2 separate regions of the Homo sapiens genome follow, and region 1 is linked to region 2. The links come from fine-mapping of genetic effects on gene expression. A gene starts in region 2. The other region holds a variant in brackets. All regions are shown on one strand. Distances are between the middles of the regions.

Region 1 (11,160 bases), 120 kb before region 2:
AGAGGTGGGGTTACAGCTGTGGCTGCTCCCGCAGGGCAGGGCTTCCACAGACAGCAGCCCGGGGCAGCTCTGCAGTCTCACTTATAGCCACAGTTTTTTTTTTTAAAGACAGAATATTACTCTATTGCCCAGGCTGGAGTGCAGTGGTACGGTCTCAGCTCACTGCAACATCTGCCTCCCGGGTTCAAGCGATTCTTCTGCCTCAGCCTCCCGAGTAGCTGGGACTACAGGTGCCTGCCACGCCAGGCTAATTTTTGTATTTTTGGCACAGACGGGGTTTCACTATGTTGGCCAGGCTGGTCTCAAACTCCTGACTTCAGGTGATCCGCCTGCCTTGGCCTCCCAAAGTGCTGGGATTACAGGTGTGAGCCACTGTACCCGGCCAGAAATGTCAAATTTTGATGAAGTCCAATTTATTTTCTGTGTTGTTGCCGGTGCTGTTGTTGTCATATCCAAGAAAACACTGCCAAATCCAATGTCCTTAAGATTTTCCCAGGTTTTATTCTGAGTCTTACAGTTTTAGCTCTTACATTTAGGTGTTTCATCCTATGTTTTTTGGGTTAATTTTTGTGTATGCTGTTAGGTAAGGGGCCAGCTTCATTCATTATTTTGCATGTGGAGATAAAGCTTTCCCAGTACCATTTGCTGAAAAGGCTGTCCTCTTCCCATTGAATGGTCTCAGAGCCTTTGTCGGAAGGTACCAGGCCACGTGTGGGACAATTTCTTGGGTCATTCTCATCGGAAGGTACCTGGTTGTTCTCGTTGGAAGGTGCCTGGTTGTTCTTGTCGGAAGACACCTGGTTGTCCTCGTTGGAAGGTACCTGGCTGCGTGTGGGACGATTTCTTGGGTCGTTGTTGTCAGAAGGTACCTGGTTGCATGTGTGGAATGATTTCTCGGGTTGTTCTCATCGGAAGGTACCTGGTTGTTCTCATCGGAAGGTACTGGTTGTTCTCGTTGGAAGGTATGTGGCCGTGTGTGGGATGATTTCTCGGGTTGTTCTCATTGGAAGGTACGTGGCTGCATGTGGGACAATTTCTCGGGTCATTTTCGTCGGAAGGTACCTGGTTGTTCTTGTCGGAAGGTACCTGGTCGTTCTCGTTGGACGGTACCTGGCCGCGTGGGGGATGATTTCTGTGGTTGTTGTTGTCAGAAGGTACCTGGTTGCATGTGTGGAATGATTTCTCGGGTTGTTCTTGTCGGAAGGTACCTAGTTCTCGTCGGAAGGTATGTGGCCGTGTGTGGGATGATTTCTCGGGTTGTTGTCATTGGAAGGTACGTGGCTGCGTGTGGGACGATTTCTCGGGCTGTTCTCGTCAGAGGTACCTGGCCGCATGCGTGGGACGATTTCTCAGGTTGTTCTCATTGGAAGGTACCTGGCCACGTGTGTGGGACGATTTATTGGGTTGTTCTCGTCGGATGGTACTTGGCCACATGTGGGACGATTTCTCTGGCCGTTCTCGTCAGAAGGTACCTAGCCGTGTGTAGGACGATTTCTCGGGTTCTTGTCGGACGGTACCTGGCCGCATGTGGGATGATTTCTCGGGTTGTTCTCATCGGACAGTACCTGGCCGTGTGTGTGGGACGATTTCTCGTGTTGTTCTCATTGGGCGGTACCTGGCCGCATGTGGGACGATTTCTCGGGTGGTTACTGTGCCCCGTTTATCTCTAGGTCTCCATGCTGCTGTGATACTGTTTTGACGAGGGAGCTTTCTTTTCTGCCACTGTGGGCCAGCTGCTGCCGTCTGTGGTATTCTTGTGTGTTGCTGATCTGAAGCTCCAAAGCTGCCATTCTCCCAAACCTTCCTGCTCAGATGAGGACCTGGGCAGTCTGAGACCTCCAAGCTGCAGTGAGAATGGCTGAGGGCCTGACCCAGCCAGGGAGGCTGCTCTGGGGACTCCAGGGTGCCTCTCCCTTCCCCCAGGCCCACAGTTGACCCAGCAGACCCACACTGAGGGCCTGGTGCGGGACTGGGGCAGCTTAGTGTCAGGGCGCAGAGCAGGCCCTGGAGAGCCAGGGGGTTGCCGTGTGGGCGCTGGCACTGGTTGCTAGTGTAAAGGCCCCACGGCCCTGACCACACAGGGACCCCAGACGTTTGGGGGAGATGGGCTCAGTGTGGTGAGGCCTTGGGACTATCTGCCAAAGACAGATGAGGTGAGGGGAACCCAGCCTTGGAAGGGTCAGGTGTGACAGACTCTGGGTCTGCAGAGGGTGCAGGCTCCACTCCAGCCGAGGCTGTCACAACCCGACCTCAGGTCACCTGTCCGCCCCAGGTGAGTGGACGTCTCTGGGAACCTGGATCCAGAGACTGGACCCCCACCATTAGGGCTCCTCTGCCTGCCAGCTGAGGGGGTCTCCCTGAGCAGGGCTGGACACTCACGGGTCAGAGCCAAGGGCTCCATGGAGTGGGCCCTCGAGGCCCCCAGCTGGGTCCAGGGGCCCCCCTATTTTTGTGACCTTGGTGGGGTACCCAGAGGTGGTAGCAGACCTGCCTTCCACAGTGACAGGCCCCCGAGGCTGGCCGAGATGGGGAGGGCAGATCACACCATGACTCCCACCCCGAGCACCCCTTCAGATGCCCAGGCCTCCGCCCCCAGGGGACTTCCTGACCACAGGCATCGGCCTGACACGTGTCGGGGCCACTGGCCCCATTGCCCCACACCGGCAGGTGGGACCCTCCGTCACACAGAACACAGGCAGCCGGGGGCTGGGCGTCTCGCACAGACTCTGTGGAGAGTTCAGACGTGAGGGAAGAAGCTGACATGCCCGATGGGAGGGCTGAGGCCCGTGATTCCGTTTATATGAAGGGTCCCGAACAGGGACCCACAGAGGCATGAGATGGATTCCCTGGGGCTAGAGGCTCTGTCTGGAAGATGGAAATGGGCTGGATGGAGGGGAGGTGGATGCACGGCCTCGGGAGCGCACTCCACACCACAAACTGTTCGCTTAATGACGGCCCTGGTCCACTTCATGCTGTGTGACTTGACCCCACATGCCCTGTGACCCCACCCCCAGGTCCCCTGGGAAGTCACAGCTGCCATCCCCAACGGAGGATGAGGGTGTCTGCTCCAGGGCTCTTGCAGGCCCTTCCCGTGGTCCCAGGACAGTGCTGCGGAGTCTCTGGGCTGTGGGTCCCATGAACGGGGTGCCCAGTCACTACTGCTGTGGGCTCCTGCCCTGCCCCCCTTGACCAGGACCTGCAGCCCCACTACGGGGTCCCCGGGAGACCAGTGGTGCACAGCTGCCCTGGGACAAGAGGAGCCTGGAGCGGGGTGAAGGAGCCCGGGAGGAGGGGCTGTGGGATTCGGGACCCACTACGGGGAGGACAGCCGCACGGGAGGGTTCCGGGCAGGGGGCATGGAGGGCTGTTGGCTCCTCAGGTCTCCCCCTTGCAGAGGCTGGGCAGGGGCACCCCGTGGCACCAGCCTTTCCCAGGCGATGGGTCCCTCGGGTTCCCACAACTGCCGCTGCCTGAGATGTCCGCCCCTGAGCTGTGCCACAGGGCTGGGCCCCACCAACAGCAGAGTCCCTGGGACAGCCCCCCGGGAAGGGCCGCCCAGGCCCCTGTGGCCGACAGCTCCGCGTGGTCGCTCCGGCAGACTTGCTGGCTCCTGGTGCGTCCCTCTGAGGCCCTGTCTGTCCCTCCACAGACACAGGGCGCCCTGTTTCCCCGGGAGCTGGAACACGGGCCCTCTGTTGGCACCTGGGCTGGCTGTCCCCCCCGGGCAGGCCGAGGGGGGGCTCCACACAGACCCACACTGTGCCTACCGCAGCCGCCCTCCTCGGCCTGAACCACCGTGTTGTCCCCACTGGGGCCCCCCACAGTGGCTCAGCCGTGGGCATCATGGCTCCAGGTGCCGTGGATGGAGGCAGGGGGAAGGGGTGGGTGGGGGAACCGCCCCCCCAGGCTGGGGGAGAGGGGAGGGCCTCTGTCCTATGGTGGGGCCCACTTCTGACTTCTCCCAGGACCCAGCCTCACAGCGTCCTGGGTGGGGGACGTTGCCCCAGAGCTTTGCCTCCTTCCGGCAGGGCTGGCACCCCTGCTCATTCCCATTTACTCCAAGTATTGCCGCAGCAGACACTGGAAGGGTCGCCAGGCAAAGCACCACCCATTCACCTCTCCATCAAGCTCCCGCTCGGTCACCCGCTGCCCCAGCATCAGAGTGTGGGCTGGGGGCACGGCCACCGCCAAGGGGAGGGAGGTACAAGAACTTCTTCATTTAAACAGTGTGTTTTCGAGTAAGCTGGTAAGTGGTATAATAGGAATAGTAGAAGAATATGCCATAGCTATGGCTCAAGAATAGGAATAAGAAAAATGTGCAGTAGACGCTGTTTGTCCGACGATGATGAAAGTGTGCACGGCCGGCTGTCCTCCGATTGAGGGGCCTTGTCAAGGCCTCAGAGGCAGCGAGGTCACAGCCTGGTGGAGGGTCTGGGTGTGCGCTGTGTCCATCTGCACCTCACAGACACCAGTCATGGGGGGATGAAACCGGGCCAAGAACACATGTGTGCACAGGCTGTGTGTGCCTGCATGTGTGGGATGCGTGTAGGCTGTGGCGGGGGTGGAGATGAGGGATAGGACAGAAAATGGCCCATCCAACCCCACATCCTGGCCGGGCGTGTCCAGGTCCCTGTGGGGCGAGGGTTTGGCTGCCCCAGACGTGACAGGGACTTGGCTCTGAGGGTCAGGACCTGGCTGGGAACACACCATTGAAGAGGGAACAGAAACCAGGCCCTGGGACGCTAGAGACCCCAAGAGCTACCTGGCTGGGTCTATGGTCAGGGCTGTAGTGGAGGAAGGTGTCAGGATGGCCATTGTCTCAACTCCTGTGGGCGGCACAGCCCCAGGCTGGGCCTCTGGGAGGAGGGTGGGATGGATGGGAGATCAGAGCCCCTGGCGCCTGGGACAAGGGTTGGCCTGGATGTGGGGCCCCAGGTGGGCAGGGCCTGGGAGCCGCCACAGTATGTGACAACAGACCCCACCCTGGACCCCCGTGCTGGGGGCTGGGTCCCACCGCTCTCCTCTCCACGTCTCTCTTGGCGATGCCCAGCTTGGGCTGGGCGCAGGGAAGGGCAAACGTTGCTGAGCCGCCGAGGGGCTGGGTCTTCGCCTTTATTTCTGGTGCACGTCTAGAGGGGCCCGGGCAGAGGCCACCCACGGTCCCTGAAGTAGGGCCTCAGCTCCTCCAGGCTGAGCGGAGGGAAGTAGGCTCCGATCCTCTTCCGCACCCACCACTTGCCCTCGGCGGCGTGCCTGCCCCCAGGACGGCTGAACTTGTACCTGTAGTGCTCTCCTCGGACCCACCTGCAAGGGGGCACATGTCAGCCCAGGGCCTGCTGGGACTCCCGGCCCCCGACCCGGCTCCTCAGCCTGCTGCTGAGCTGCAGCTGCTCACAGGGTCCCCCACGGACAGAGGGGCTGCATGAGGAGCCCCCACCCTGAGCACAGGTAGACCCCCAGCAGACCCCGGGCAGGGCAACTGTTCCAGTCGGCACCCTCAGCAGTGAACAGCGCAGCAAGGGGGAAGGGCGGACGGGGGGCAGCTCCGGGAGGGGAGACCCAGCAGGGCCCACTTGGCAGAGGGACCGGCCCGGGGAAGGCCAGGAGCTTCACGGGTGGCACTGAGCAAGCCTGAGACCGTTCACAAGGCCCCAGTTTGAGCCCCAAGTGTCCCCCGCCTGGGAAGGTGGGGAGAGGAACCTACTGCTCATGGTGTGGC[G/A]TCTCCACCATCAGGCCAGTCCTGGCGCAAGGTGCCTGGGGGTTTCGGTCCACGGGGCAGTCCGAGGCTGTGAGGGAGCCAGGCCGGGACCTGTTTCCTGAGGGCGGAGCCTCTGCTTCCCAGGGCTTCAGGCCCTTCCCTGCCTGAGACGTGCAGATGCTGGCTGGCTGCTCTCCTCTGTCATGCCCGAGTGGGATGAAGGCCCCCACCCCCATCTCCCCTGGAGCAGGGTAGCGGGCAGGTCTCTCTGCTGAGCCCTGTATAAGGTCCCGCCTGACCCCTGGTGACCAGGCCTGGTTTAGGCCATACTGGGTCTTGGTCCCTGGCTGGCAAGCCCTCACTGGACTCTCGGAGGACTGGGCATTTTCTCCTGGGGGTGGGACGAAGCCCCCTCATGTCCAGGGTTGCTCGGCTGCCCCGGAGGAGGAGGCGCCAGGAGGAATTGTCACCGTCACAAGCTCCCGGCCCTCCAGGCCCCTTCGCAGTTGTGCAGCAGGAGCGGAAGCTTCTCAGCCCACAGGGCGGCTGCTGCCTGGCTGGGATCCATGGCAGAGCTGGGCCCCAGCTGCCCGGTGGGTGTGATGGTGCAGCCATAACAGGACCCTCTCATGGCCCCTGGAATGAGCCCAGGCAGGTGCCAGAGGCTTCACACTGCACCAGGGCCCGGTAGCGACTGTCTGGGCTGCTGTCATTATTTGGGGCTTCTGGTGACCTGCACACAGCTGTGCTCTGGGGGCTGGGGGTGGAGACCTTGGGCCATGCCCCTTAGGCTGGCAGGGTGAGGGCCTCTGGGTCCACCCGGCTCCTCCTGGCTTTGAGTCTCTTTGGGTCTGGGTGTGTGATGGATGATGATTCTTCTCTCCCCAAGTCTGAATTACGCCAGGAAAACCGGGAAGACAGAGACCCTCTGGGTGGAGGAGGGTCCCTGAGGCGCCTGATGGGAGAGAGGGATCAGCAGCTCCAAGAGGAGTGGGGTCGGGCCTTTGGAAAACCTCCCGGGCAGCCAAGACTGAGGGTGATGCTGGCAGTTGGTGGCTCCCGTCCACTCCAGGAGGGCACTGCCCACTGCCCTGGGCCCCAGGGGTCTTTCCTGGACCCCTTGGGCCTGAGGCTGCCATGGTTTTCCTTGGCTATAAGGACGGCAGCGGCCAGCATGGGGACTGAGGCCAGGTGGTGCCAGGCAGAGAAGTCACACTGGACCCCGAGGTCGACCTCTGAGCAGCTCAGCAGCAGACTGAAGGGACGGGCTGGAATGCGGCCGTGAGGGCGCTGGGCTGTGCGGGCAGCATGGTCCCTGCACACTCTCCTGGGCCTTGCTAGGGCAATGCAGTCCCCAGGCAGGCCCACCCTCTCCCAAACCCTGCATTTAGTGAGGCCGGGAGGGTGGGGATCCTGGGAAGGCCTCCTGCAGTGGGATTGCCCATCTTTCCCAAATTCCTGCTCTTGCTTTCTGCTCCTTCCCAGGACAGGGTCAAGGCCTAGGGGGCCCAGGGCCTGGTCTCTGACATCAAGAGCTGGAACTGCAGTTTGGAAAGGGTTTTGGAAAGGGTCAGAACCCTCTGTGCCAACTGGCAGGTTGGTGGGAAGGGGCCCCAGGCCCCAGCGGCCTGAAGGGTTGCATTTCATTCCTGCAGACAAAGTACCCGAGAAGGCCATGGCACCGCCCCGGAGGGCTTGAGAGTGTTGAAAATAGGGGATCTCCCAGCCCTTTTGAAATAGACCCTACTGGCAACAGCTGGGCATCTTGCACAGCTATAGTAGGGATTGCAGCCAGGGCCTGACACTGAGGCCACAGACACGGGTCCCATCCACGCCCGGACCCCCGTGTCCTTCCACACCCTCCCCGACCTTCGGCCTCCTTGTGTGATTTCAAGAACGTATGATTTCAAGAATGAGTGGAACCCTGCGGCACGTACCCGCGGGGCAGGCGATTCTCACGCCAATTCTCAGGTTCCGCCAGGTCGTGTGATGGAGGCTTCCTTCCTCCTCGTCGCTGACCGGCGTCTGCGGCGTGAGTGCACCCTAGTTTGTGCGGTCGCTCTCTTGTGGAAGGACAGCTGAGCTCTTTGCAGTTTTTGTCTGTGACGGCTGCCGTAAACCTCTGCACGGGTTTCTGCGTGAACCTGGGTTTCAACTCTCTGGCTTAAACGTCCATGGAAGCAGCTGCTGAGTCCACTGCAACTTCGGGTGTCCTTTTTGAGGAGCCATTTTACCCTCCCAGCAACAGCCGAGTGACTCGATTTCTTGGTATCTTTGCCAGCATGTGGGGTTGTTGCTACTTTTATTCCAGCCGTTTTGATGGGTGTGCAGTGGTGTCACGGGACGGGTGTGAGTGGTGTCTCGGGACGGGTGTGAGTGGTGTCACCGGACGGGTGTGAGTGGTGTCTCGGGACGGGTGTGAGTGGTGTCACGGGACGGGTGTGAGTGGTGTCACGGGACGGGTGTGAGTGGTGTCTCGGGACGGGTGTGAGTGGTGTCACGGGACGGGTGTGAGTGATGTCACGGGACGGGTGTGAGTGGTGTCACGGGACGGGTGTGAGTGGTGTCACGGGACGGGTGTGAGTGGTGTCTCGGGACGGGTGTGCGTGGTGTCTCGGGACGGGTGTGCGTGGTGTCTCGGGACGGGTGTGCAGTGGTGTCTCGGGACGGGTGTGCGTGGTGTCTCGGGATGGGTGTGCGTGGTGTCTCGGGATGGGTGTGAGTGGTGTCTCGGGATGGGTGTGAGTGGTGTCTCGGGATGGGTGTGCGTGGTGTCACGGGATGGGTGTGCAGTGGTGTCTCGGGATGGGTGTGCGTGGTGTCTCGGGATGGGTGTGCGTGGTGTCTCGGGATGGGTGTGCGTGGTGTCTCGGGATGGGTGTGCGTGGTGTCTCGGGATGGGTGTGAGTGGTGTCTCGGGATGGGTGTGAGTGGTGTCTCGGGATGGGTGTGCAGTGGTGTCTCGGGATGGGTGTGAGTGGTGTCTCGGGATGGGTGTGAGTGGTGTCTCGGGATGGGTGTGAGTGGTGTCACGGGATGGGTGTGAGTGGTGTCTCGGGATGGGTGTGCGTGGTGTCACGGGATGGGTGTGAGTGGTGTCTCGGGATGGGTGTGCGTGGTGTCACGGGATGGGTGTGAGTGGTGTCACGGGATGGGTGTGCAGTGGTGTCTCGGGATGGGTGTGCAGTGGTGTCTCGGGATGGGTGTGCAGTGGTGTCTCGGGATGGGTGTGAGTGGTGTCTCGGGACGGGTGTGCAGTGGTGTCTCGGGACGGGTGTGAGTGGTGTCTCGGGACGGGTGTGAGTGGTGTCACGGGACGGGTGTGAGTGGTGTCACGGGACGGGTGTGAGTGGTGACTCGGGACGGGTGTGCAGTGGTGACTCGGGACGGGTGTGCGTGGTGTCTCGGGACGGGTGTGCAGTGGTGTCTCGGGACGGGTGTGCAGTGGTGTCTCGGGACGGGTGTGAGTGGTGTCTCGGGACGGGTGTGAGTGGTGTCTCGGGACGGGTGTGCAGTGGTGTCTCGGGACGGGTGTGCAGTGGTGTCTCGGGACGGGTGTGAGTGGTGTCACGGGACGGGTGTGAGTGGTGTCACGGGACGGGTGTGAGTGGTGTCTCGGGACGGGTGTGAGTGGTGTCTCGGGACGGGTGTGACTGGTGTCACGGGACGGGTGTGCAGTGGTGTCACGGGACGGGTGTGAGTGGTGTCTCGGGACGGGTGTGAGTGGTGTCACGGGACGGGTGTGAGTGGTGTCACGGGACGGGTGTGAGTGGTGTCTCGGGACGGGTGTGCAGTGGTGTCTCGGGACGGGTGTGCAGTGGTGTCACGGGACGGGTGTGCAGTGGTGTCACGGGACGGGTGTGCAGTGGTGTCACGGGACGGGTGTGCAGTGGTGTCACGGGACGCGTGTGCAGTGGTGTCACGGGACGGGTGTGAGTGATGTCACGGGACGGGTGTGAGTGGTGTCACGGGACGGGTGTGAGTGGTGTCTCGGGACGGGTGTGCAGTGATGTCTCGGGACGGGTGTGCACTGATGTCACGGGACGGGTGTGCAGTGGTGTCTCGGGACGGGTGTGAGTGGTGTCTCGGGACGGGTGTGAGTGGTGTCTCGGGACGGGTGTGCAGTGGTGTCACGGGACGGGTGTGCAGTGGTGTCACGGGACGGGTGTGAGTGGTGTCTCGGGACGGGTGTGAGTGGTGTCTCGGGACGGGTGTGCAGTGTTGTCACGGGACGGGTGTGCAGTGGTGTCTCGGGACGGGTGTGCAGTGGTGTCTCGGGATGGGTGTGCAGTGGTGTCTCGGGAGGGGTGTGCAGTGGTGTCTCGGGACGGGTGTGAGTGGTGTCACGGGACGGGTGTGAGTGGTGTCTCGGGACGGGTGTGAGTGGTGTCTCGGGACGGGTGTGCAGTGTTGTCACGGGACGGGTGTGAGTGGTGTCTCGGGACGGGTGTGCAGTGATGTCACGGGACGGGTGTGCAGTGGTGTCTCGGGACGGGTGTGCAGTGGTGTCTCGGGACGGGTGTGCAGTGGTGTCTCGGGACGGGTGTGCGTGGTGTCTCGGGACGGGTGTGCAGTGGTGTCTCGGGACGGGTGTGCAGTGGTGTCTCGGGACGGGTGTGCAGTGGTGTCTCGGGACGGGTGTGCAGTGGTGTCTCGGGATGGGTGTGAGTGGTGTCTCGGGATGGGTGTGCAGTGATGTCACGAGATGGGTGTGAGTGGTGTCTCGGGATGGGTGTGAGTGGTGTCACGGGATGGGTGTGCAGTGGTGTCTCGGGATGGGTGTGAGTGGTGTCTCGGGATGGGTGTGCAGTGGTGTCACGGGATCGGTGTGAGTGGTGTCACGGGATGGGTGTGCAGTGATGGTACCGGATGGGTGTGCAGTGGTGTTATGGTGGTTTTTGCTTCTCTAATGACAGGCATTTCTCCTGAGCTTATCTGTCATCTGTGCACCTTCTTTGGTGAAACGTCTCTGTGCTCATTTTCTAATAAGATTATTTTAGTATTAAGTTATGAAACTTCTTTACATATTCCAGATTTTAGACTATTGTCAGATACGTGACTTGCAAATATTTTCTGTCTGTAGCTTAAAAATTATCTTTGTTCTCTTAACAGGTCTTTTTATGGAGCAAATGCTTTTAATTTTAATGAATTTCAATTAATTTTTCCTTTCACAGATCATCTTTAAGTATAATGACTCTGCCTGGCCCTAGATCCCAAAGATTTTCTTCTATTTTTTCCTGAAAGTTTTTTTTTTTTTGAGATGGGCTCTCGCTCTGTTGCCCAGGCTGGAGTGTGGTGGTGTGATCTCGGCTCACTGCAACCTCTGCCTCCCAGGCTCAAGTGATCCTCCCACCTCAGCCTCCCGAGTAGCTGGGACTACAGGCATGTGCCACCAGGCCCTGCTAATTTTTTGTGTTTTTAGTAGAGACGGGGTTTTGCCACGTTGCTCAGGCTGGTCTCAA
Region 2 (11,160 bases):
GTAATTACACTGTTTCCAGATAACACCTTAATTCTGAGGCAGTTAAAATGCATTGTGTACATATACTATGTGACTCTCATCAATAGCAAACCAACGTCAGTTCAGTCCAGGAGAACCCACCCAGGGTGGGCAGCTCTAGCCTAGGGTGTCTTCAGTAGCACCTGCAAGGCTGTCCTTCCCCCGTCTTGTCAGGGAATCCAGCTCTACCACTGGCGCTGTAACAGACACAGGGCTGCTGGAAATTCCAGGAGTCCAGCCCCAGCTGCCTGTGGCCGCCCATGGACGGACCTGGCCAGGCCCCCTGGGAGGGGGATTTCAAAGCATCAAGGAGCCGGCCTGGCTGACGAGGCTCCAGACCAGCTGTTTGCCACACACGCCCCCGTACTGCAGGGTTGACCAGTGAGGGCCTCAATCTTCCGCAGGGAACGCCGGGCCACAACGTCGACGCACGACCCTGGGGGTTCCTGCCATAAAACAGTGAGGGATTCTGGCCAGGCTGCTCTGCCCTCTGTTCCGGTGAGCCTGGGCATGGTGCCCACTCTTGGGTTCGGTTTCCTTATTGCGCACACAGACAGCAGCAGGCCTGACTGCAGGAGGCACCGGCACCCATGGGCGGCCGGCACTGCCCCTACACACCAAGAACATGGCACCCAGGTCCCGCTGCTTAGGCCGGAAACTCCTGTCACATAAGCTTTTACTCGTCCAGATTTCAGCCATTCCTGGGAGTGACATCTGTGCTGAGGGGAAGCTCAGTGTCAGTGTCAGGCATCCCCGACCACCTCGGGCAGCCTCGGTCCTCCCAGGAGCCGTCACGGCCCGAGAACGCCGCTGCCCAGATGTGAACCGGGTGTCCAGGATACGCAGGCTGCACAGTGGCGTGAATGAAGGGCAGGGCTGAACTCCAGGGCCTACGGACAATCGCTGCACAGCCGGGCCAGTGGCTGACCCTGCTTCCTCGCTGTCCACTGGGGGTAGTGGCGTTGTCACCAGGAGGTCAGCACCGGGCAGGGTGCTACTTCAGCATCTGCTCAACGCAGTAATCACACTAGGGACCCGAGTCCACACGTCAGGAAGACAGGTGTGTCTTCAACTCTGAGCCCTGTGAAAATGCCGCTTTCCGCTAACACACTCCGGCTCCCACAGCACAGCAGGGCATGCCCGACACCCCAGGACGCCCGCGGTATGCACGTCTGTGTGCAGTGAGCACACCCCTAGCACCTACACACCTCGGTGGCAGCACATGGAAACGCCCAGGCCCGCGGTGGGAAGGAGCCAGCCCCAGGACGGATGCAAAGTCAGGTTGAATGCAGAGGCCTGTCGCTGGCAGCCGGCCTCTCCAGGTCTGGCTTCGAAGCTTCCCCGACAGGGCAGGCGTTTCTGTGTTCTCCTGATCTGTACATCTTTACTACATGTCTGCTGAGACAATCTGCCTAAGGGTAAGCCTCCCTCAGTTCAATGTCTTTTAACAAGGGGAGTTTCCACAGAATACATTTGGTTATGTGTTTAATTACAAGTGTTTCAATAGCTATAAACATTGTAAAATTCAGTATCAAGTGAAATATTTGGAGAGCCCCTATGGCAACTTGGAAAAACCCTGGGATTCTGAGGAACAGGGAGTAGCGCACAGTCCCAGTAAAATCCAGAACTTTCTAGAAGGAGATAAATGCAGGATGACTGCCTGCTTGCCCTGGGCCAGCTCAGCCAGAAAACCATGTCCCTGAAAGATGGGAAACTGGTTCCTTGATACAGCAGAAAAACACTGATTCTACCCCAAATGTACTCACAAGACAGAAGAACGTGCATATGTCAAGGAGAAATGTTCAATGCTGGGCACCAGGCTTAAAATATCCGCTTGACCCAGTGGCTTAAAAGCAGTTCCTTCTGAATTGAACAGAGAATCCCTGCGGAGATCAAAGGAGCCTCAGCTCGTTTGAAAGAGTCTGAGCTGGTTTTATGAAGCTGTGCTCCGGAGGCAAGGCCGCTGGGACTTCCTGCTGTATCTCGGGCTCCCCTGTGGAAGGCCTATTAGAGCCTCACAGCTTCACTTTATCTCTACTTCATCGTTTGCTAAGTGACAGCACCAACATTTAAAATGACTGTTTAATACTGTGGAGGGAAAAGCAACCTGGGAAGAACTACTTTTTAAAATAATTGCAGGCCGGGCATAGTGGCTCACGCTTGTAATCCCAGCACTTTGGGAGGCCCTGAGGTCAGAAGTTCGAGACCAGCCTGGCCAACATGGTGAAACCCTGTCTCTACTAAAAATATTTTTAAAAATTAGTCAGGCATGGTGGTGCGTGCCTATAATCCCAGCTACTCGGAAGGCTGAGGCAGGAGAATCGCTTGAACCCAGGAGACGGAGGTTGCAGTGGGCCGACATGGTGCCGTTGCGCTCCAGCCTGGGCAACAGAGTGAGACTCCGTCTCGAAAAAAATAAATAAATAAAATAAAATAGTTGCTTTAAAGAAAGAGAGAGAGAGACACAGACCCAGTTGAAGCCGATACTGCAATCCCACAGGAAACCTTGTAGTGATGAGCGCGTCTCATCACTTTGCACCAGGAGGTGGAAAGTATCACACAAATGTCACACAAAACGTCGAACTGAGCATCACTCCAGCACAACCAGGCTACCAAACTTCCCGCGACGTGTGTGGCACAAAGGCTGTGCAAAGAAGAACTTCTGCAACCTGACCCTTTCCTTCCACACGTGAGGGAAGCAGACGATGGAAGGAAAGGGAGACGTCCAATGCCCACGGCCTACAACCAACGCGTGGGCAACGCCCGGGGCCAGCAGCTCCGGAGCCCTCTGGGACGGTGACTGCCCACGCGCCCCGCTGGCTGCATCTCGGCCTGGCAGGCTCCCCTCACTTCCATACTCATTTGAGAGCCTCACTTGAGGTTCGTAGCTCCTGACACGTTGGGCTTATGAAACATGTATCCGTGTGATCACATGTCACCGTGATCACAGAACCGTTCTCTTCCAAACCAGTTCTGGGTTGTAGGGACTGGGGAGAGAGGGAGTTGGAATCGCCAGCTGCCCCTGGCCAGGGGATCCAGAGGTTTTGAGCGTGAACTGACTTTTCTCAGAGCTCTGCTCTGTAGGCTGCGCACGCGGGCCCCGCACAGCTGTGGGGTGAAGGGTCTCCGCCAGTGGACCCGGCCAACCACATCCCACAGTGAGGCGCAGGCTTCACTTGCAGATGAGGTTCCGGAGCTGCCCCCAGACCTCCGCTGGGAATCTTCCCGAACGCAGACTGAGCTAGTCGAGAACACTAAAGGAGAAACTCCAGTCTGGCCACCAGCCAGTCACCTTCCCTCAGCCCCTGGGAGACGCGAAGGAGGCTCCCGGGCCGGCTCCTCGGATTTTGGCAGGGGCCGCACGCGGCAGGGATGTGGCGTGCGGGCGTCCAGTTACAGTGGGAACCTTCACCGTCAGCACAGCGCTGTGTCGGGGACAGCAGGAGCGCCTCGCCTCTCCAGGCCGCCCCCCGCCCCGCAGCCAGGACGCAGACCCCCGACCTGCGCACGGACGGGTGACCCTCCACCTGCCCAGCTCTCCTGGGAACTCCTGGGCCAGGGCCCGGGCCGGCCCCGCCTCGCATAGCCCCGAGCCGGTCCTGGCAGGCGCGGCCGTGCAACTTCGGGGCTGCGGGTGGAACCGGGAGCCCAGGAGCCCAGGCCGGAGGCTCGAGGCGGCGACAGGGGTAGGGCCGGGTGCGCTGTCGCCAGCAAGCCTTGTCCTGCCCTGCCCGCCCCGCCTTGCCCGGGCCCCAGCAGGAAGGAGGGCTGCGTGGGGGCGCCGCGGCCGCGAGACCGCGCGGAGGAGTCTCGAGGGAGGGCGGGGGTCGTGGTGCGCGGAGGTGACACTGGCGGATGTCCCGGGCCCGCCCGGCACTCACAGTACACGAAGGCTAGGGCCTTCAGGAGCACGATCCGGGTCAGCCAGAAGGTGCCCGTGTGGAGATGGGCCGGAGAGCCTGCGGGGCCACGCCCCGGCGCGGGCGGCGACTCAGGCTCCGGATCCGAGTACCCAGTCTTCCGCCTCCTCAGCGACTCCGCGGGCGCCGCCATTGTTGGGCTGTCAGGGCGCATGTGCGGGGAGGGCGCACTCCCGGAGGCCCCGCCCATTCTCGGAGGCCCCGCCCATTCTCGGAGGCCCCGCCTCTCCCTGGCCGGCCCTGCCCACGGCCGAAGGCCCCACCCACACCCCGGGAGGCCCCGCTCACAGTCCCGGAGGCACCGCCCCCTCCAGCCGGCCCCGCCCACGCGCGGGAGCGGGTGCCCGGAGCCTGCCTCCTTCGCAGTTCTCGCTGGGCGCTGCTGCGGGTAGGGCGCGGGGCCGGGTACCTGGGAGGTGGTGCGCGTCGCCCGACCCGAGCTCACTGGGGCAGGCACGCGTGCCTTCCGTCAGTCCGAGTTGCAGAGGCCAGGTGCCCTCCCCCAGCCAGGCGCCTTCCCAGCTGTGGTCCTGGGGAAGGTGGGCTGCACAGGCCCTGGCGGTGCTACCACTGCGTGCCCCTGCCTCACAGCTGACACTCACTCTCTGCGGAGGAGGGTGCTAGGGCGATCGTCGCAGCCAGCAAGGGACAGAGTAGGCAGGGCTGTGCCTGGAATGCTCGGGGGACCCTCCCCTTTCTCCCAGCCTGAGCACCCTTCCGCCTTTGCACAACCCAGCTCCTGCCTGCCCTTGGGACTGGACTTCAAGCTGTGGGGGAAGAGGGGGACTCAGGACTCAGGAGGGAAGGGCTAACTGCCCAATGCCCCAAACAGAACATGAAGGAGGACGCCAGCACTCTACACTCTGATGACTGGAGCGGGGTTCTGGAGGCTGATGTGAAGCGGGTGCTAGGAAGGGCTGGGGTCACAGGCATTCCTTAGAGGAAAGAAAGGGCGTGAGGCTAGAGTAGGCATTGGAGACCTAGGGGTTAGTGAATAAACTGTGGGGCACTTAGGTGGAAGTGCAGATTTCTCCTTATTCATTTGTCAGCACTCTTTACGTATGAAAAATCCTGTTCTTTTGTGTATATTGGAAATATTTGTCCTGGTTTTTTGTTTTTGTTTTCATGTATTCTTCTCTTTTGCCTCTCTAGCTTTCCTAGTGTTTTGGCGTATCAATTATCGCCACTGGGTTGGTCAAATGACCCGTCTTTATTGCTTGTTTAATTACCTGTTTAATTATATCTTCACCACCTGCAGTGTGAGCCTTGTGTGGGCAGGGACTGACTGTGGACATCGGGCCCCCAAATCCAGGCCTGACCAGCAGTGGCCCGAGCTTCCTCTCAGCCTCCACCTTCCCTGTGTTGCTGGGGCCGTAGCATACGTGTACATCTTATGGTTTAATTCATTTTTAGTTTCCATTTCTTTTCTATGAAACCCCCCTTAGGAGCCCAGCTGTGAAATGGGACCCTGTTAAAGATGTTGCAACGGGTACGAACACACAAACATCCTCCGCATGCTGGCCCAGCCTCCGGGAGCGTGGTGTGTGCCTGAGGGCTCGGAGCCTTGGGGATCGCAGGAGGCATCGGCCCTGGCTGGCGCCCGGCACCCAAGTCCCTCCACAGAGCCCACGACCCGTACCTCTCCTCGTGACCTGGGGGCCAGCTTAGGAAGGGCCGGCACAGCCCACACTGTTCCCCTCATCTGTGGGGAACAGGGAGCCCCACACCCTGGGACCACGCCTGCAGAGCGGGCCCTGTCTGGGTGCCAGGCCTGCTAGGGGACGGACGGCGAGAGGGACTGCCCTGCGTCAGGTGTGGCCCTGCGCTGTCCTCAGGTGGGGCTGCCCTCACAAGGAGGCTTTGTGCACAGCTTCCCCTCGCTGGGCCGAGCTGCTCTCCCCGCGAAGGGCACAATGGGGCATTGTGCAGAGCAGAAAAGGGCCTCTTGTTCCAGCTTCCAGCGCTCCGGGCTCCGGCTCTGCATTTGCCCAGGGTGGGAGCAGTCAGCGGAAGGGTCTGCTGGGAGCTCCTGTTCTCTCTGAGCTCAAGTTTCCCTCAGGGTCTGCTCTCTTGAGACGCTGACCGCAGGGGTCCCATCCACTGCCCAGAATGGCTCCAGAGCAGGTCACCGGGGGCAGGGCTTGGGCCGGGGAGAGGTGGACCAGCAGCTCTGGTCGTGCCCATTTCAGCCTGAATTTAATCAAAAGTGCACTGGGTTATGATTCAGCCATCAAAAAGAATCCAGGAGCCGGGCGCCTGTCATCCCAGCACTTTGGGAGGCCGAGGCAGGTGGATCACCTGAGGTCAGGAGTTCAAGACCAGCCTGGCCAACATGGTGAAACCCCGCCTCTACTAAAAATACAAAAAAATTAGCCAGGTGTGGTGGCGGGCACCTGTAATCCCAGCTACTCGGGAGACTGTGACAGGAGAATCGCTTGAACCCGGGAGGTGGAGGTTGCAGTGAGCCTAGATCGCGCCACTGCACTCCAGCCTGGGCCACAGAGCGAGACTCTGTCTCACTAAAATAAAACATAAAATAAAAAGGAATCCAGTTCTGACACGTGCTACAACACAGATGAACCTCAGAACATCAAGCTCAGTGGGACAGGACAGACGCGGAGGTCATGAGTTGCGTGAGCCCATTTACATGAAATGTCCGGGGTGGGCAAAGCCACGGGGAAAGGAGGGAGCTCTGTGGTCCAGGTCTGGGGACGGGGAGTGGGGAGCCAGTGGTCCGGGGGTAGGACGTTTTCTTTTGGGCTGATGAGAATCTTCTGGAACTAGGCGATGGCTGCCCAGCACTGTGAGGTGCTAAACACCGAGTCGTTCACTGGCAAATGGCTTATTTCATGCTATGTGAATTTCGCCTCGAATTTTAGAAAAGTAAAATGAGGCCGGGCACCGGGGCTCACGCCTGTAATCCCAGCACTTTGGGAGGCCGAGGCGGGTGGATCACGAGGTCAGGAGATCGAGACCATCCTGGCTAACACGGTGAAACCCCGTCTCTACTAAAAATACAACAACAACAACAAAATTAGCCGGGCATGGTGGCGGGCGCCTGTAGTCCCAGCTACTCGGGAGGCTGAGGCAGGAGAATGACGTGAACGCGGGGGCTGGAGCTTGCAGTGAGCCGAGATCGTGCCACTGCCCTCCAGCCTGGGCGACAGAGCGAGACTCTGTCTCAAAAAAAAAAAAAAAAAGTAAAATGAAAACAAAAGACAACAGACAGCCCTGCACTGGTGTTTCAGAATCGCCCGGAAGGCGCTGTCACCTGTCGGAATACATCATGTCATTTACGCTCACCTTACTTCTTTGTCTATATTAAGGCGCATCTAGCAGTTTAAAAATAACATTTAGATACAGGTGTGTCTTATTCTCTAAGAAGGCACTTCACTTAAAAACAGGCTTCTCTGCAAACCCAGAGTGAGCTGCAGCGGCCGGGAGATCGGCCAGGTGTGGTCCTTTCACCCTGCAGCTCAGTGTCCTGTGACCACAGGCACGTGGGCCCTGCCCTGAGCGCCTCACACCAACCCGAGGCGGGAGGAGGAGGAGGGCGTCCTGAGAGTGCCCTGTCAAGCAAAAACTCTAAGAGAAAAAGCCAGGCTGACCCAGGAGAGGCCTGAGGGAGGGGAGTGGAGATGAGGCTCGGCCACCCCAGGGCTGCCCGGTGCTGGGGGAGAAGACGCTGAGAAGAGGAGGAGAATGGGGAGGAAGGGACGGACACCCCAAGAGCACGCAGGCTGAAGACTGGGCTGCCTCCCCGGAGACCGACCAGCCTGCCCTAGGTGGGACCCTGTCCCCGCCGTCCCGGCCTGCGCCAGCACAGCCCCCAGGACCCAGGCACACACAAGCCCGTGGCTGGCCACGCTCCCAGCAGCTGCGGGCCGGCTTCAGGGAGGAATGAGCCCCTGTCGGCACCTCGTCCAGCTGTCCCCCAGCACCCCGGCCTGGCAGCTCCCGCCTCCTCGGGGCCATTGTCCCTGGCATGCGGTGGCAGCTGTCTCTGGCACCCGCAGGAAGCCAGTGTGGGCCCGAAGATAATCGTGCACCCTTCATTTACCCCAATTTTTCATGTCCTGAAGTCTGGGTATGGAAGGGGGGCCCAGGACCCGTGGATGCTAACATCTGTTGCCTCCTCCTGGAAGGGTGGTCAGTTTGGGCAGATCCTGCTGTGACTGTCCAGCGGCCAACCCCCCCACCCCCCACGTGAGGCTGGCAGGTGCGGGTGGGGGCTGAGAGAGCAGGTGTTGTGCCATTTGCTGGTTGTCCTGGGACGATGACTCACAGACGGCTGTTCTGCTTGGCTCACCCTGTCCTCTCCCTGCACCCTCGGCTACAGGTCACGAGTGTTCCCACCCCTGCACCCCAGAAGGAGATGCGGCTCCATGTGACCCTGCAAGCTGGCAAGCCATGGTTTCTAGACAGTGGAAAGCACAGCTCCCAATGTGGTGGTGTTCTCCGGTTGCAGGGCCCTATGTTAGGAAACGAATGTGTAATTTTTTTTTTTTCTCTAGGAATCATATTCTGCACTGGAAGAAGCCTTGAGAGTTGCCTGGCCCAGAGGTCACAAACCAGAGCCCTGCGGGCTGAGCTCTACCCACAGTGCAGTTATCAGTCACCGTGTAGCGGTCACCGACGGCCACATTAATGCTGCGTAACAAACAGCCTCAGAGCCCACCGTTGTGTGTCGCCAGGCGGTGCTGTCCATGCCCAGGCCCCAAGAAAGGCAGGGGAAAGGCTGAGCTGGGCCTGTGCCCTCTGTCCCTTCCTATGAGCCTCTAGAGCAAAGCTTTGCTGAAGGCTGTTGTCTGAACCAAGGCCACAGAGGAAGCACGCTCCCTGCTCCCACTTTGCCCCTCGTACCCGCCTGAGGGCATCTTAATTAAGCCTTCCTTCCCCACGCTCAGAAAAATAAATACTTGGGAGACAGCAGAGACATTTTCACAGGGTGTGTTTTCATTTGCCTTTGGCACTAATGGGTCTCTGGAACGTTCCATCCTGGCCGGGGAGGTCAGGGCCTGGGCGGCCAGGGCCCATTTCGAGAAAGCAGGTTTTCCTTTGTGGCATGCTTATTTCAAGCACCATTTTCCCTCCTGGTTATACTTGAAATGGGGCTCGGTGTTGGGAGGTTTCAAATGTGGACATTCCGGGCAAGGGGCCTCATGAACTCTGTGGACATTCTGGGCAAGGGGCCTCATGAACTCTGAAGGTTGAGCTTGGAAGGACGGACACAGGTCTTGGCAGCCTGAGTGGGTACAAACGCTGATTTTTCTGGAGTCAGTCCTCTCCTGCTGATGGGCTGAGAGAGCCCCCCAGGCCCTGTGTCCCTTCTCAGAGGACCTCAGCCCCCCAGTGCCTGGGCCACGGATGGGCTGGGGGCTGGGGCCCAGGGCCTCGCATCCTACAAGGGCCCAAGGGCTGAAATGGGGCTGGGGTCCCTGGATCTAGGGGATGAGGGCCCAGAACGAGGCTGGGGTCTGGGGTTCAGTGGAGCAATGACCAGGAATCAGGCTGCGATCTGTAGTCCAGGTGTCTGGCGTCAGACAGCACCCTCCTGTACACGGCACAGCTGTACTGCAGGGTTAGGGACAGGATTTACTGCCACCAACGGAAGCGTTGATTCCAAGTCTCAGACACCGCCCCCAGGCTGGGCCTCCCTCGACGGAAGGTGACGCTCTCTGGGAGGTCCTTGGTGCTCACCTCCCTGGCTGCTTGGGGCCCCAGGGCTCCTGCCTAGGGATGTTTTGGGGCTGCAGAAGGACCCTCTGCCCATTATCAGACGAGAAGTGCAGAGAGCAAATGCGTGCTGTTGGCGCCCCCCACCCCCACACTGAGAGTGGAGACGGATAGGCCCAGCCAGAAGCTTGGGGACCCGCTCCCAGCCTGGAGTGACGGACGCTGAGCAGCAGGAGCACAGCTGTTCCCGACACATCCGTGATCTGGGCGTGCACCTGTCACTGGGGAGAGAGCAGTGCTGGTCTCCACGCTTTGGGCATCGCCTGCTCCCTGAATCCTTTCCACATGCGAACAGCCTGGGCAGGGGTCCCCAGCGGTCAGTAGCTACTCCCGCCAGCGCGGGTTCACGGATCAGGAGGCTCCCAGTGTGTCAGGGGAGTGCGAGGTGAAGATGGGGAGGGCTGGGCTGGAAATGCTCGTCCTCCGTGGAGGTCGGGGGCATCAGGAGGACCAGGAGGACGTCTGGGCTGCAGGCAGACGTAAGCTGCAGCAGGGCCAGCTCTGGCTACAGAGGCCCAGAAAGCACTGCTCCTGCAAGGTGCCAAGAAAGACTCACTGAGTGGTTTTCCACTGCCCTGTGAGCGCCAGGAAGCTTAAGGCACAGACAAGGCCAGTTCTCAGGCAGACGCCACCCCAGCCAACAGGCCAGCCTTGACCCAAACCGGAACTCGTGCCCCAGCTGGCACTGCCAGCACCCGAGACAGTGAAGTACAGGGAGCTGCAACCCAGCCCAGAGCTCCAAGTGTGCGTGGCCAAGAAGCTGACTCCCGAAGGGGGTCTTGAGAGGGGTCCTGCGAACCCCTCCTCTCCCCTGGAGACCCGTCCGGGGGCGGGGCCTTTCCCAGCCTCTGCTCACAGCCTGCGCCGGCCCAGCCTGTAGTCACTCTGTCTCTGCCAGACCAGCCGTCATTAAAAGCACCAATTAATCTCCCAGGCCGTGCCAGGACGCTGCCAACTGCCCCACGGGTGCTCGGGATGCAGGGGCTGGGAGGCCCGGGCCAAGGCTGTGCACACACCGGCTGCCAGCGGGTTCACGCCCGCCGGGCCCTCCCTGTGCTTCTCAGAGGCCGCACAAAAGATGGGCTGCCTGCCGCAGGAGGAGGGCCGGGTTGGGGGTGGATGGAGGGGGACGGGGAGGACGGGCAGGGAGGGACGGAGGGGCACAGGGAAGGACGGAGAGGGAGGGACAGGGGCCTCTCCAGGGTGGCATTTCCCTGGGCAGCCCTGCTTCCTCCTCGTGCCCTGGGCCCAACACACACCACACACACACACACACCATACACATGCACACCACACATCACAAACACACCCACACCCTGCACACATACACCACACACTAAACACACACACCACACACATACCACACACATACATCATACACACGCACACACACCACACACCATACACACACCCCACCACACACATACACGCACACACACACACCACACACACACATCATACACACGCACACCACACATCACACACA

What was found.
Region 1: its variant is fine-mapped to the expression of LMF1 in whole blood (TOPMed, PIP above 0.99).

The regions. Positions count from the first base shown.
Region 1 is chr16:849,403-860,562 of GRCh38, forward strand. It overlaps LMF1 (lipase maturation factor 1), which reads right to left. Exons shown (of 11, transcript NM_022773.4): 11 at 4,232-5,304. The coding sequence ends at 5,130. Among named protein-coding and RNA genes, the nearest start is that of GNG13, 54 kb to the left of the region's middle. The variant G/A (reference allele first, on the strand shown) is at 5,720.
Region 2 is chr16:966,889-978,048 of GRCh38, forward strand. LMF1 (lipase maturation factor 1) reads right to left here and starts at 4,096. Exons shown (of 11, transcript NM_022773.4): 1 at 3,900-4,096. The coding sequence starts at 4,092. CEROX1 (cytoplasmic endogenous regulator of oxidative phosphorylation 1) reads right to left here. Exons shown (of 3, transcript NR_164343.1): 3 at 8,873-10,205. It overlaps LOC124903620 (a long non-coding RNA gene), which reads left to right and starts at 7,181. Exons shown (of 2, transcript XR_007064935.1): 1 at 7,181-7,723; 2 at 8,453-8,870. RefSeq lists enhancers at 2,301-3,292, 5,275-6,265 and a silencer at 3,338-4,507.